Linked DNA regions of Homo sapiens. The protein of the gene in region 1 interacts with the protein of each later gene in a pairwise test. Each region holds a gene or a part of one and is shown in the gene's direction. Other genes may lie near its edges. The genes, in order: CLRN1, CTXN3 and TMEM222.

Region 1 (4,374 bases):
TTGGAATAGAACATCAACCTCAGAAGTAGAAGACCTGGATTTGAATCCCAGCTCCACTACTCTCTTCAGCAAGTTGCTTAAACTCTCTGAGCCTCAATTCCCTTATATATAAGATACGAATAATTGCTTTTTCTTCTTCTTTCTTCTTTCTTATTCTTCTTCCTTCTTCCTTTCTCCTCCTCCTCCTCCTTCTTCTCCTCCTCCCTCCTCTTCTTCTTCCTCTTCTTCATTACTTTATATGCTAATTATGAGAATTACATATGATAATTTAGGTAGAATACTTCACAAGTTGCCAGACATAAGTTCTTACTAAACATTAACTTTGTAGGTCAGAGCTCAGGACAATAACATGGCATATAATAAACATTCACTAGACACTTCACACACACACACACACACACACACACACACACACACACACACACAGTCCTGTGTCTGTAGAAGGAGGAATCTCATTGGAAATGCAAAGTTAAAAAGCTGTTACTGAATTCTGAACTTTAGTTTCCAGGTCTTGACCGTTTAACCAGACCTACCTGCTGCTTAATCTTTGCTCATAACTGTCTCTAGTCTCCCAAACAGATTACCTTTGCTGAGACCTGTGCATTTTTATGATGAATCCATAGAGTCACCTATCTGACCACCATCCCTCTTTCCATCAATATGCCCTTATCTTTACAGATCCTGGTATTCCTTGGACCCAGAAACACATTCCCTTGCTATTATCCTAAAGCAGCTAAGCCTGTTAAAGGAAAGCATTTAGAAATCTAGATATCTGCTCCTGCATTTTCATATTTCTGTATGCCAAGAAAAATTTGAATCAAATTCTCTATTGATACATTAGGTATAAACCATGGATCTGGGAGAAATTAAGTTGGAAGGACAAGGACCCATGGTTGATCCAGAGCACTTAATATTCGTGTAGGACCAAATTCTGTTTAATATTTTTATCCTGCTGTAATTAAAAATTTTTGACATCAACTATCAATACAGGTACATATGTTCTCCCTACCTCTGCTAAAGCTCCTTCCCCCACCACCAAAAACAATAACAAACAAAAAACAAAAATAAAAACATCGATAAGTGAACTTCTCAAGTTGCTGAAAATGTACCATCAGATTCAAGCCTGTTTCTGAAAGTTTCAACTCACCCAATCAGACAAAAGGCTGAGGAAGGGAAACATTTATCAAGTTACACTGAGGACTCCATCTGTTATCTTCGACCTTTGTTACCAAGTGACACAGAGGAGATACTTGAAGGCAGTTTGAAAGACTTGTTTTACAGATTCTTAGTCCAAAGATTTCCAATTAGGGAGAAGAAGCAGCAGAAAAGGAGAAAAGCCAAGTATGAGTGATGATGAGGCCTTCATCTACTGACATTTAACCTGGCGAGAACCGTCGATGGTGAAGTTGCCTTTTCAGCTGGGAGCTGTCCGTTCAGCTTCCGTAATAAATGCAGTCAAAGAGGCAGTCCCTTCCCATTGCTCACAAAGGTCTTGTTTTTGAACCTCGCCCTCACAGAAGCCGTTTCTCATCATGCCAAGCCAACAGAAGAAAATCATTTTTTGCATGGCCGGAGTGTTCAGTTTTGCATGTGCCCTCGGAGTTGTGACAGCCTTGGGGACACCGTTGTGGATCAAAGCCACTGTCCTCTGCAAAACGGGAGCTCTGCTCGTCAATGCCTCAGGGCAGGAGCTGGACAAGTTTATGGGTGAAATGCAGTACGGGCTTTTCCACGGAGAGGGTGTGAGGCAGTGTGGGTTGGGAGCAAGGCCCTTTCGGTTCTCATGTAAGTAGCAATTGCATTTGAGTTATTTAATGCTTTAGGCAGACTCTTCCCAGTGTTGCGAGGAATTATATTTGAGAATTTTGCCGTGTTTACTGCAGGACTTTTTAAATCGGTGTGAACCATATGAAAAACCTATGACTCTGAGCAATTTCTTCTTCCTAGTTTTTATTATTTTATACTTGCTTTTTATTATAATATAGAGTTAATTCATTGTTACATAATTAAGGTTTTTGGAAATATTGGCAATTAAGATGCTTAAGTATTAATATTTATGTAAAAAATTATGGAGTCTTTTTAAAAAAGTAAACTTGGGGAAATAGGAAAGCTGTAAAGAATGATCTTTATGCTTTTTGTTCTTTATAAAAAGAACCAAGGTCATGGGCTCCGTATTTAACCAGGTTGCCACCTTTCTCATGATTTTGTTTCCTGCTCCCCACTCCCTCCCATTATTCCTGCTAAGACCTTTCCTGCTGCTAAATATTCAGTTTTCATTTTTAACTAATTTGGAATCATTTGGCTATAGAAATTTAAAATGATCTGCTGTGCTAACTGGGAAAGAAATGGATGCCTATTTAGTATAGAACATTTTAAACTGATTGACCTGCAAATCATGTAGAGAATATGAGAGAGATTTTCTTGTTGTGATTTTTGTGAAATGGAAGTGTAATCCACAGTATTTATAACCTGTTTATCTTAAGAAGAGAATTTTTAAAAATTACCATGTGAATAGGCAACTCATTAAATGAAAATTAATAGGAAGTCATTTGTTATATCTCTTACAACACACATTCAGAAGTTATTATTATTTCAGAAGGGCTGGTTTGGAACAACCTTATGAAGACACAGTCAGTAAATTACTGCATAAATCACTCTTCAGGAAAGGAGGTTACCAACTGAAGCATTTAAAATGAATTATTATTTTGCCCAGGTTTTTTTTTTCTTTCTAGTATAGGTAGAAGGCTAAATTAATTGAATTTATTATTAACATATGCAGTGCCTAATTAAATTTCAGTGCTGGTCTATTTATATTTCTGCAACATTCCTTATATCTTCTTAGCAGTCATTGGACACCAACCTTCAGCTCACATAGGTTACTAAGTGATATGAATTTTCATAGGGCTCCAGAAAATTTCCAAGAATTGGTTGTTAGCTTTTTAATTGATGAAGTGGATACCAGTTCTTTTCACTGAATGGCTTTTATTCATTAAGGTAATGGGGCTGTTAGAGTTGCTTAGTTTTCCTGGGGAAGGGGAAGGAAGAAAACAAAGCAGAATGTCATGTGATATGCAACTGTATTAAAAAACCGAAAAGGAAAAAAGTTGAGAGAGATGATTTAACCGTGAGTCACCGGCAGCCAAAGCGTGAGTAAAGCTTCTCACAGATGAATTTAGACAAAAGCGGAGAAGGTACTGGTGAATTTTCTGGAGCCTTTACATTTTCTACAGTGAAATGGAGATAAACTTTACTCATGCCATAGGACATGTTTCAAAACAATAATAAGATGTTTTCTGAACACTTACTACATACTAAGCACTTTATATGCTTTGTCTCATTTAATCCTTACACAGCCACATTCTTCTGGGGTTTAGCGAATGATTTTTGTGGTTGTGTCCTATGCTTGTCCTGTCTAAGGATGAAGTTGTTCTAATTGGGTGCCCCTCCTTTTGCTTTCTGTGAGGACTTGCAGAACTGGTGGGGTTTAAACAGTACCCTCACTTATCTCACAGAATTTCATTAGCTCCCAGATACCCCTGACATTCTCCCCCTAGCCTAGTGAAGAAAATCTTCCATTTACTTGTTCATTCTGCAGTGACAGCTCCATCAATATACAATAGACTATACATATTAAGTGTACTGTATATACTATACATGTTAAAAATCTCATTCATTTTGGTGAGGCCCAGCTAAGAATACTTACAGTAGAGCTTTTTTTTTTTTCCTAAGCATAAAAGTATCTTTTTCAATGCAGCATGAGACAGAGTTGGGAAAACCAAAATAAATAGATCCAATGGACTCCCCAAAGAGGATAATATTCATTTAAATAAACACCCCTCTCAGTGTTAAAACTTTCTAATCAACATGCCTTTGGGACACATTGCACCCTCAAAGTTTACACTCCCATTGCAACGCAGCTTTGTGGTTCACGTTTTTTCCATTCAGAATGTCATTACCCTGTCAATGATGTTTCATCAACGTTTGCTTGGATGAGAATCCTCTGATATTCTTCCTGATAGAAATGTATAAGCCCTGTTCATATAAATGAATAAAAGATCTAACCTTACTTTCTCAGTAGTGGCTTCCTTGGAGCAAAAAGCAGGGACCTCCAGAGAGCTCAGGTGGATGACTCTTTTCTGTTTCTTCCAGAGCTCAACTTACAATTAGTGCACAATTCATTTCCCAGAATGTCTTCTTTCTTATTGTGCCTTTAGAAAGTTATTAAGCAAACATTTGAATTCACAGAATCTTACCAGTGTAAGAGGAATGGAAAAGGTAACTTATCAAGGTAACAATCACTTCGTGGCCAGTTTTTTCGGCTCACTGCAACTACCCCTCCTGGGTTCAAGCGATTCTCCTGCCTCAGCCTCCCAA
Region 2 (3,652 bases), on another chromosome or scaffold:
CATCTGCTCCTCTGTCATCAGCGGGCTTTCCTTTGGCCCAGCCCTTGGAGAATTTTATATTTCATATGATTAAGTATAGTTTGAATATTTTTGGTGGACACAGATGGCCCTGGTCTGATGTGCTGAGGAGACCTGCATTGGAGGCTCTGGCCTCCCTTCCTGCCCCTCCCTTCCTGGCCCACAAGGAATTAATACCCAAGGCTAGGAGGGTGCTTAGAAACAAGCAAACCAAAACAAAACCCAGTGCATTAATATCCTCTAAATTCCTAAAGAGCTTATTTTTTTAAAATGCGGTCAAATTTTTATCCCAATCTTACTTCCAAACAAACATGAATTATAAATGAGTTTTGCAACTGTTATAGCCTTTAAAAAAATTCAAAGTGATAGAGCTGCAAAAATGATGCATTACCCGACTGGTAACTCCTTCCTCCCAGATCCTGGCTGGGATCCCCCTTATAAATTGTTTTTTAAACTGTAATTTTACAAACTTTGAAGTGTCAATATAATGCAAACTGTTATGCTATGATTACTAATGCTGTACTTGAAGGCAATGATTATAAGTTAACTGAAGGAACATTGTATTGATGCTTTAGGTCACATATTCTATTTTTATTTGGTTATTTTCATTGAGCAAAATTTATTTTGTGTCCGTGTTAATTTCCGTAGCTAATTACTGTGCTTTGTAATTTTTATTATAAATAAATTCATAATAAATATCATTTAATTTTCTATATAGTAGTAGTGTCTAATGTATATACTTTTATTTACGATGTGATTTAAGTAGATTTCGTTCAGTATCTGAAGCTTTTAACGACCTCTGTGTATACTTGTCATGTATATACTTGTATATTTATACGGTAATATACACTTGTATATTTATACAGTAATATCTACATATCTAAGTTTTTCCACCAGTAAAATTAAAATAGTGTTAGCTTGTCCTTTTCCTTCTCTTCCTCTCTACTGAATAGTCTTAAATGGTAGGAAGCCACTCTAAGGAAAACTGTCCTTTTGAAAATATGCATCGATCAATTCCTTTCTCTTGGCTTAATTCTCTAGGTGCTTCCCAGGGTCAAGTATTGAACCTGGTCTTTGTTTTCTGAGGAAAAAAGAAAAAGCAGCAGTAACTTGATAGTTTGGGAGACTGAGATACCTCCGTTCTCCCTTGGCTCAGGCAGTAGAAAGGAAAGGAGAAGCAGCATAGCTCCCTTAGTTGTGTCTTAGGTGAAGCAACACTTGGCTTTGTTTGTTTTTCTTTTTTGTATACTTTTCAAAGGGTTTTCACAGCTCTTCATCCTTATTACAGCACCATGAAAGATGCAGGCATTGCTACTTGCATTTTTACAGCTTAGTGACCTCTCCAAGGTCCCACACCCGTTTTGCAGTAGAGTGGAGCCCGGAGCCCAGAACCCAATGCTCCTGGAGAAGGTTTCTATTTTAAGCACCTTTTCTAGCCTCAGTTTCCTTGCACTGGGGCTAAAGAGATCCCTGCTTTCGTGAAGCTTGCAGTAAAGTGGCTAACATGTTTCAAGTTTAGCCACTGTGCTGACACATAGCTGAGGCTCCCTCAATGGCGCTATCGTAAGAACAATGTGAGAGTAATATTAGTGGAGCAGAGCAGGAGGAGACTTGGCAGGGGAGGCTGGGTTCAGATGTCAAGTTGACAGTACACCCTGAGGTCAATATTACTGTGCACATTTCTCATCTTCTATATTATAGTCGTATTCCCTGCCCATCCCTCCTGGCCCCAGGTGGCTCTTCTGAGAACAATCTGGTAATTTCATGCAAGAGTAAAATATCTTTCCCGATAATTATACAGAATTGAGCATCTCTGGTGAAAAAGAAAGCTGGTTTACAGATTTCTTTTTCTCTCTGAAAAATATGACTGTGAACCTAAAAAAATAAGGCTGCTATTTTATAGGTATTCCTTTCCCTTCCTTTTTCCCTGCAGATAACTCAGCCTCTCCAGAGTGCAGCCACCATGACCTCCGCAGATTGATGATGGAAGAAAAGAAAACCAGGATATCCTGTGCTCTGGCTTCCCTGGACCATGGATGGAGGACAGCCCATCCCCTCATCCCTAGTGCCCCTTGGGAACGAATCAGCAGATTCTAGCATGTCCCTGGAGCAGAAAATGACATTTGTTTTTGTGATTCTGTTGTTTATTTTCTTGGGCATTCTCATTGTCCGGTGCTTCCGGATTCTTTTGGATCCATATCGAAGCATGCCAACCTCTACCTGGGCTGATGGACTTGAAGGCCTGGAGAAAGGGCAGTTCGACCATGCCCTTGCTTAGGAGGGATGGTGTGGGATCTCCTCCTGAGGAGATGAAGTGCTTTGTGTCTTGGTGAGGATTCCCTTTATTTAGTGTTCTCAACAAATCAAATTTAAACAATATTTGGTCCCAGGACCATAATCCATTATTCCATAAATATGCAGTTGGGTTAAAGACATTTGAGGATGTTGGAAATGGACACTTATATAACTAATCCAACATAAGAAGGTTTAAATTTTTATGTTTGCTCAATGAATGAGTACTCTTAAAATTGTGTGATTGTGAAACCAAGAGCGTTAATACTGACATAGATTTGCCATCAAACAAAACACCACCTGATCTGACTAAAGAATAAAAGACTAGAAAGGATCTCATATGAATCTGGTGACAAGGCCAGGAAGAGATTTCCTTGCTCTAATTATGTCTATATTTGTTTTATTTCATGGGCACCTATCTGGGTCCTGAGCAGAATGAGGAAGATTGTGCTGAATGGACCCAAAGTAGTTTCTTGTTTTCTCCCAAAGCAGGGAGCTTTGGGAAGCAATGGAAAAGCTTAAAAGAGATGATTCTGTCCTTGGTAAATGTGAGTGAGAATAGCGTTTTGTTTTTCAAGTAAAACTTAATTCAAAGGCTACAAAGTTTTAAAAACTATTTACCAAGCCAACTACATTATATGTATTCATATTAATAACATGTGTAGAGGTAGCTATACATTACTTGAATTTACACTTTACACAAATGATTTAAAAAATAGGTTGCAAGTGCAGCTTAAAGTTTTTTTTCAATGAAAAGTTAATTGTTTAGAGGAGAAGACTTTTATAGTCTTCAGAGGAATGTGTATTTATGATTGTATATAGTCACCAAATAAAACTTTTCAAGAAACAGAAATGCTTCCTCTCTTATTTCACCAGAACTAATGCACTGAGGGTGCTACCTGGTATTAAGTGCTGAGGCTTAACATTTTTCCAAGAGAGGAGAAAAGAGTTAACAGCATGAAAGCTCATCTAATTCATCCCTCTCCCATTTCAAGAAGAGCTCCTATAAATTGTCCTGCACAGACAAAACCGATAGTTTTTAAGACCACCAAAAAGGGAGATGTGAATACCTCTTATTCCAACTTTTGTTGGAAGGAAAAGCTTGTGTCTAAACCAACCCTGCAGATAACTCAGCCTAAACCAACCCCGTTAGGCTGTATTTATAATCTATGTCTTCTAGTTTTCTCCTCAGCTAGTCATTACCTTTTTTGATTAAAAAAAGCACACTTCTTTAACCTATTAATTATAAGATTTTCTTTTTCTTTCAAATGTACTGTGTCATGTGTGTCCTCATTAATTTTTTTTTGTATTTTTGTTAGAGTCTATTCAAACCCACTCATGT
Region 3 (3,652 bases), on another chromosome or scaffold:
GGAGAGAAAGGTCAATTAGCCATCGTAGTATTACTGTATAGTGATGATTGCAGAGCTAGGCATAGATGTGGCGCAAGTAACTGTCACCTGTCTTTGGAGGAGAGATCAGAGGAGGAAATGGAACCCAAAGATCTGTCTACCCCCTCAGAGATGTTGGTAATTCTGCATGAAAAACCAGTTTAGTGCTCGCCTCAGCAGCACATATACTAAAATTGGAACGATACAGAGAAGATTAGCATGGCCCCTGCGCAAGGATGACATGCAGATTCGTGAAGCGTTCCATATTTTTGTCTCCCTGGACTTCGAGCAGGAGATGGCCACTACCACATCCTCCTCCCTGGAGAAGAGCTACAAGCTGCCGGATGGCCAGGTCATCACCATCAGCAACAAGCGGTTCCAGTGTCCGGAGGCGCTGTTCCAGCCTTCCTTCCTGGGTATGGAATCTTGCGGCATCCACGAGACCACGTTCAACTCCATCATGAAGTGTGACGTAGACATCCGCAAAGACCTGTACACCAACATAGGGCTATCCAGAGGCACCACCATGTACCCGGGCATCACCGACAGGATGCAGAAGGAGATTAACGCCCTGGCATCCAGCACCATGAAGATCAAGCTCATTGTGCCCCCAGAGTGCAAGTACTCTGTGTGGATCAGCGGCTCCATCCTGGCCTCACTGTCCACCTTCCAGCAGATGTGGATTAGCAAGCAGGAGTATGACGAGTCAGGCCCCTGTATCGTCCACCGCAAATGCTTCTAAATGGACTGCGAGCCGATGCGTAGCATTTGCTGCATGGGTTAATTCAGAAGTATAAATTGGCCCTGGCAAATGCATATACCTCATGCTAGCCTCACGAAAATGGAATAAGCCTTCGAAAAGAAATTGTCGTTGAAGCTTGTATCTAATATCAGCACTGGATTGTAGAACTTGTTGCTGATTTTGACCTTGTATTCAAGTTAACTGTTCCCCTTGGTATTTGTTTAATACCCTGTACATATCTTTGCTTTCAACCCTTAGTACATGTGGCTTGGTCACTGCGTGGCAAGGTAAGAATGTGCTTGTGGAAGACAAGTGCGACTTGGTGAGTCTGCATGGCCAGCAGTCTCCGATCTTTGCAGGGTATTAATATGTCATGGCTGAGTGTTCTGGGATTTCTCTAGAGGCTGACAAGGGCTCCTGAACCAGTTGTTTCTGTCCTGCTGGTCTGTCAGGGTTGGAAAGGCCAAGCCATAGGACCCAGTTTCCTTTCTTAGCTGATGTTTTCCTGCCAGAACACTGTGGGCTGTGACTTGCTTTGAGTTGGAAGCAGTTTGCATTTACACCTGTAAATGTATTCATCCTTTTAATTTATGTAAGGTTTTTTTTTGTATGCAATTCTCGATTCTTTAAGGAGATGAGAACAGATTTTGGTTTTCTACTGTTATGTGAGAACATTAGGCCCCAGCGGCATGTCATTGTGTAAGGAAAAATAAAAGTGCTGCTGTAACCAAAAAAAAGGGAAAAAAAAGAAACTAGTTTAATAGCTGCTGCTACTAATAAAAACAGCTAAGATTAGATGCTTACTCTGTCCTAAACATTGTATGTTCACTCACTCAATCCTAATGTCAACCTATGAAAGTAGATACTGTTGTCACCATTTTATAGATGAGGAAGTAAGGCTTAGAAGCCAGTGTGGTGCTCTTTTGCTGAGTTAGCCTACCTTCCCAGATTGAGCTCCAGGATGAGTGAGTCATTTATTCATTTATTGTATCTTTATAAAGCACCTATTATGTACTAGGTCCTGAATAGAAGGTAGTCCACAAAGCGGCTCTGGAGCTGCCTTCCTGGAGCTTCCAGGCTGACAAACCACTTTGAGGGTTTCTTCTCTGGGGCTTCCAGCCTTTACTCTGATTTCCATCCACTGCTGCCAGCACAGCTGTGGCGTGTGGAATCCTGGTTGGACCCAGACTTCCTCCCAAGCAGATGAAAGGATTAGGGGGCAGAGATGGGGGTGGAGGGCAGTCCTGAGATCAGGATGAGCTACTTTCCCATAATCCTGAATGTCCATCCTGTGGCCTGTGGATCTTCTGCAACTTATTCTATGTTAGTGCAGTCAGTCAGATAGTGCTTATGTATTGAACACCTCGAGATGACAACATTGAGCAGCTGCCAAGCGGAAGGCAGAGTCCTAGGCACTGTGTAAATGGATAAGTCTATCCATTTAATCCTCACAATAGCTCCTCATTAAGGTAATTTTTACTATCCACAGAGAGATGGGAATTAGTAACTTGCCCAGAACAAAGGCAAGCCTCAACCCAGATGATATCTGAGCATGACTTCACTGTTGGCGTTTGTTTGTTGTTTTTAATTTTTATTTATTTATTTATTTAGAGACAGAGTCTTGCTCTGTCACCCAGGCTGGAATGCAGTGGCGTGATCTCAGCTCACTGCATCCTCCGCCTCCGGGGTTCAAGTGATTCTCGTGCCTCAGCCTCTCGAGTAGCTGGGATTACAGGCACATGCCACCATGCCCATCTAATTTTTGTATTTTTAGTATAGACAGGGTTTCGCCATGTTTCCCAGGCTGGTCTCGAACTCCTGACCTCAAGTCATCCACCGGCCTCTGCCTCCCAAAGTGCTGGGATTACAGGCGTGAGCCACTGAGCCCAGCCTTGACTCACTGCAGCCTCAACTTCCTGGGCCCAGCCTTGGCTCACTACAGCCTCAACTTCCTTGGATCAAGTGATCCTCCAGCTAATTTTTAGATTTTTTTAGATACAGGGTCTCACTGTGTTGCCCAGGCTGGTCTCAAATTCCTGGGCTCAAGCAATCCAACTGCCTTGGCCTTCCAAAGTGCTATGATTACAGGCGTGAGCCACAGCACCCAGCCCCAGACTCTACTCTTAAATGCAGGATGTTCATTCATTATTTAGTCAACAAATATTTAGTGAGTTGCAGCTATATACAGGCACTGCCGTAGTAAACAAGAAAAAATCCTGTCTCTCTTGGAGCTTATGTTCTAGTGGAGAGACAGCATATAAATAACCAAGATAATTTTGGATGGTAGTAGATACTATGAGGGAAGTAAAGCATTGTAGTGGGATCTGGGATTGGGTGGCTGTGCTGGAAGACACCGTTCAGGCAAGACCTCCGAAGGTGACAGTGAGGCTGAGGCCTAATCAGTGAGGAGTCAGCTGTGCCATGCTCTCTGGGAAGAGTGTTCCAGACGGAGGAGAGGGCAGATACAGAGAAAGCATGGGGTGGGAGGATTTGGCGTGTTTGAGGCCACAAGCAGGCAGTGTAGCTAGAGAGGGGACTGAGATGAAGTTCAAGGGATAATTAGCACCACAGTGTTGGAAGAAGTTCGAAGTGTATTATAAGTGTAGTAGGAAGCCATTAATAGGTGTTGAACAGGGGAATGATGGAATCTGAGTTCAATTCTCAAAAGACCACTCTGGCCCTACCATTGTCTCAAGCGCTCAAGCTGTAGACCTGGAAGACCCCCATCCTGTCAGTCGTAAACTCTCCAGTCTTCATTTGAAAGATCTTTTGAATCCATGTGTTTCTCACCACCCTGCCCCTGATCCTCTAGTCAGGACCTCCATCATCTCTTGCCAGTGGTACAGCAGTAGCCCCTGAGCTGGCCTCTCCCCCTTTCGTTCTTCCAGGCAC

Evidence for each region.
Region 2: the proteins of CLRN1 (region 1) and CTXN3 interact in binary tests that used the Homo sapiens proteins (3 or more experiments, as listed by UniProt).
Region 3: the proteins of CLRN1 (region 1) and TMEM222 interact in binary tests that used the Homo sapiens proteins (3 or more experiments, as listed by UniProt).

The regions. Positions count from the first base shown.
Region 1 is NC_000003.12:150,969,867-150,974,240, reverse strand, and holds the start of CLRN1 (clarin-1), read left to right. Parts: upstream 1-1,513; 5' UTR 1,514-1,532; coding exon 1,533-1,785; intron 1,786-4,374. UniProt on the Homo sapiens protein: May have a role in the excitatory ribbon synapse junctions between hair cells and cochlear ganglion cells and presumably also in analogous synapses within the retina.
Region 2 is NC_000005.10:127,655,472-127,659,123, forward strand, and holds the end of CTXN3 (cortexin-3), read left to right. Parts: intron 1-1,951; 5' UTR 1,952-2,050; coding exon 2,051-2,296; 3' UTR 2,297-3,159; downstream 3,160-3,652.
Region 3 is NC_000001.11:27,325,037-27,328,688, forward strand, and holds part of TMEM222 (transmembrane protein 222), read left to right. Parts: exon of another isoform or gene 1-1,489; intron 1,490-3,652.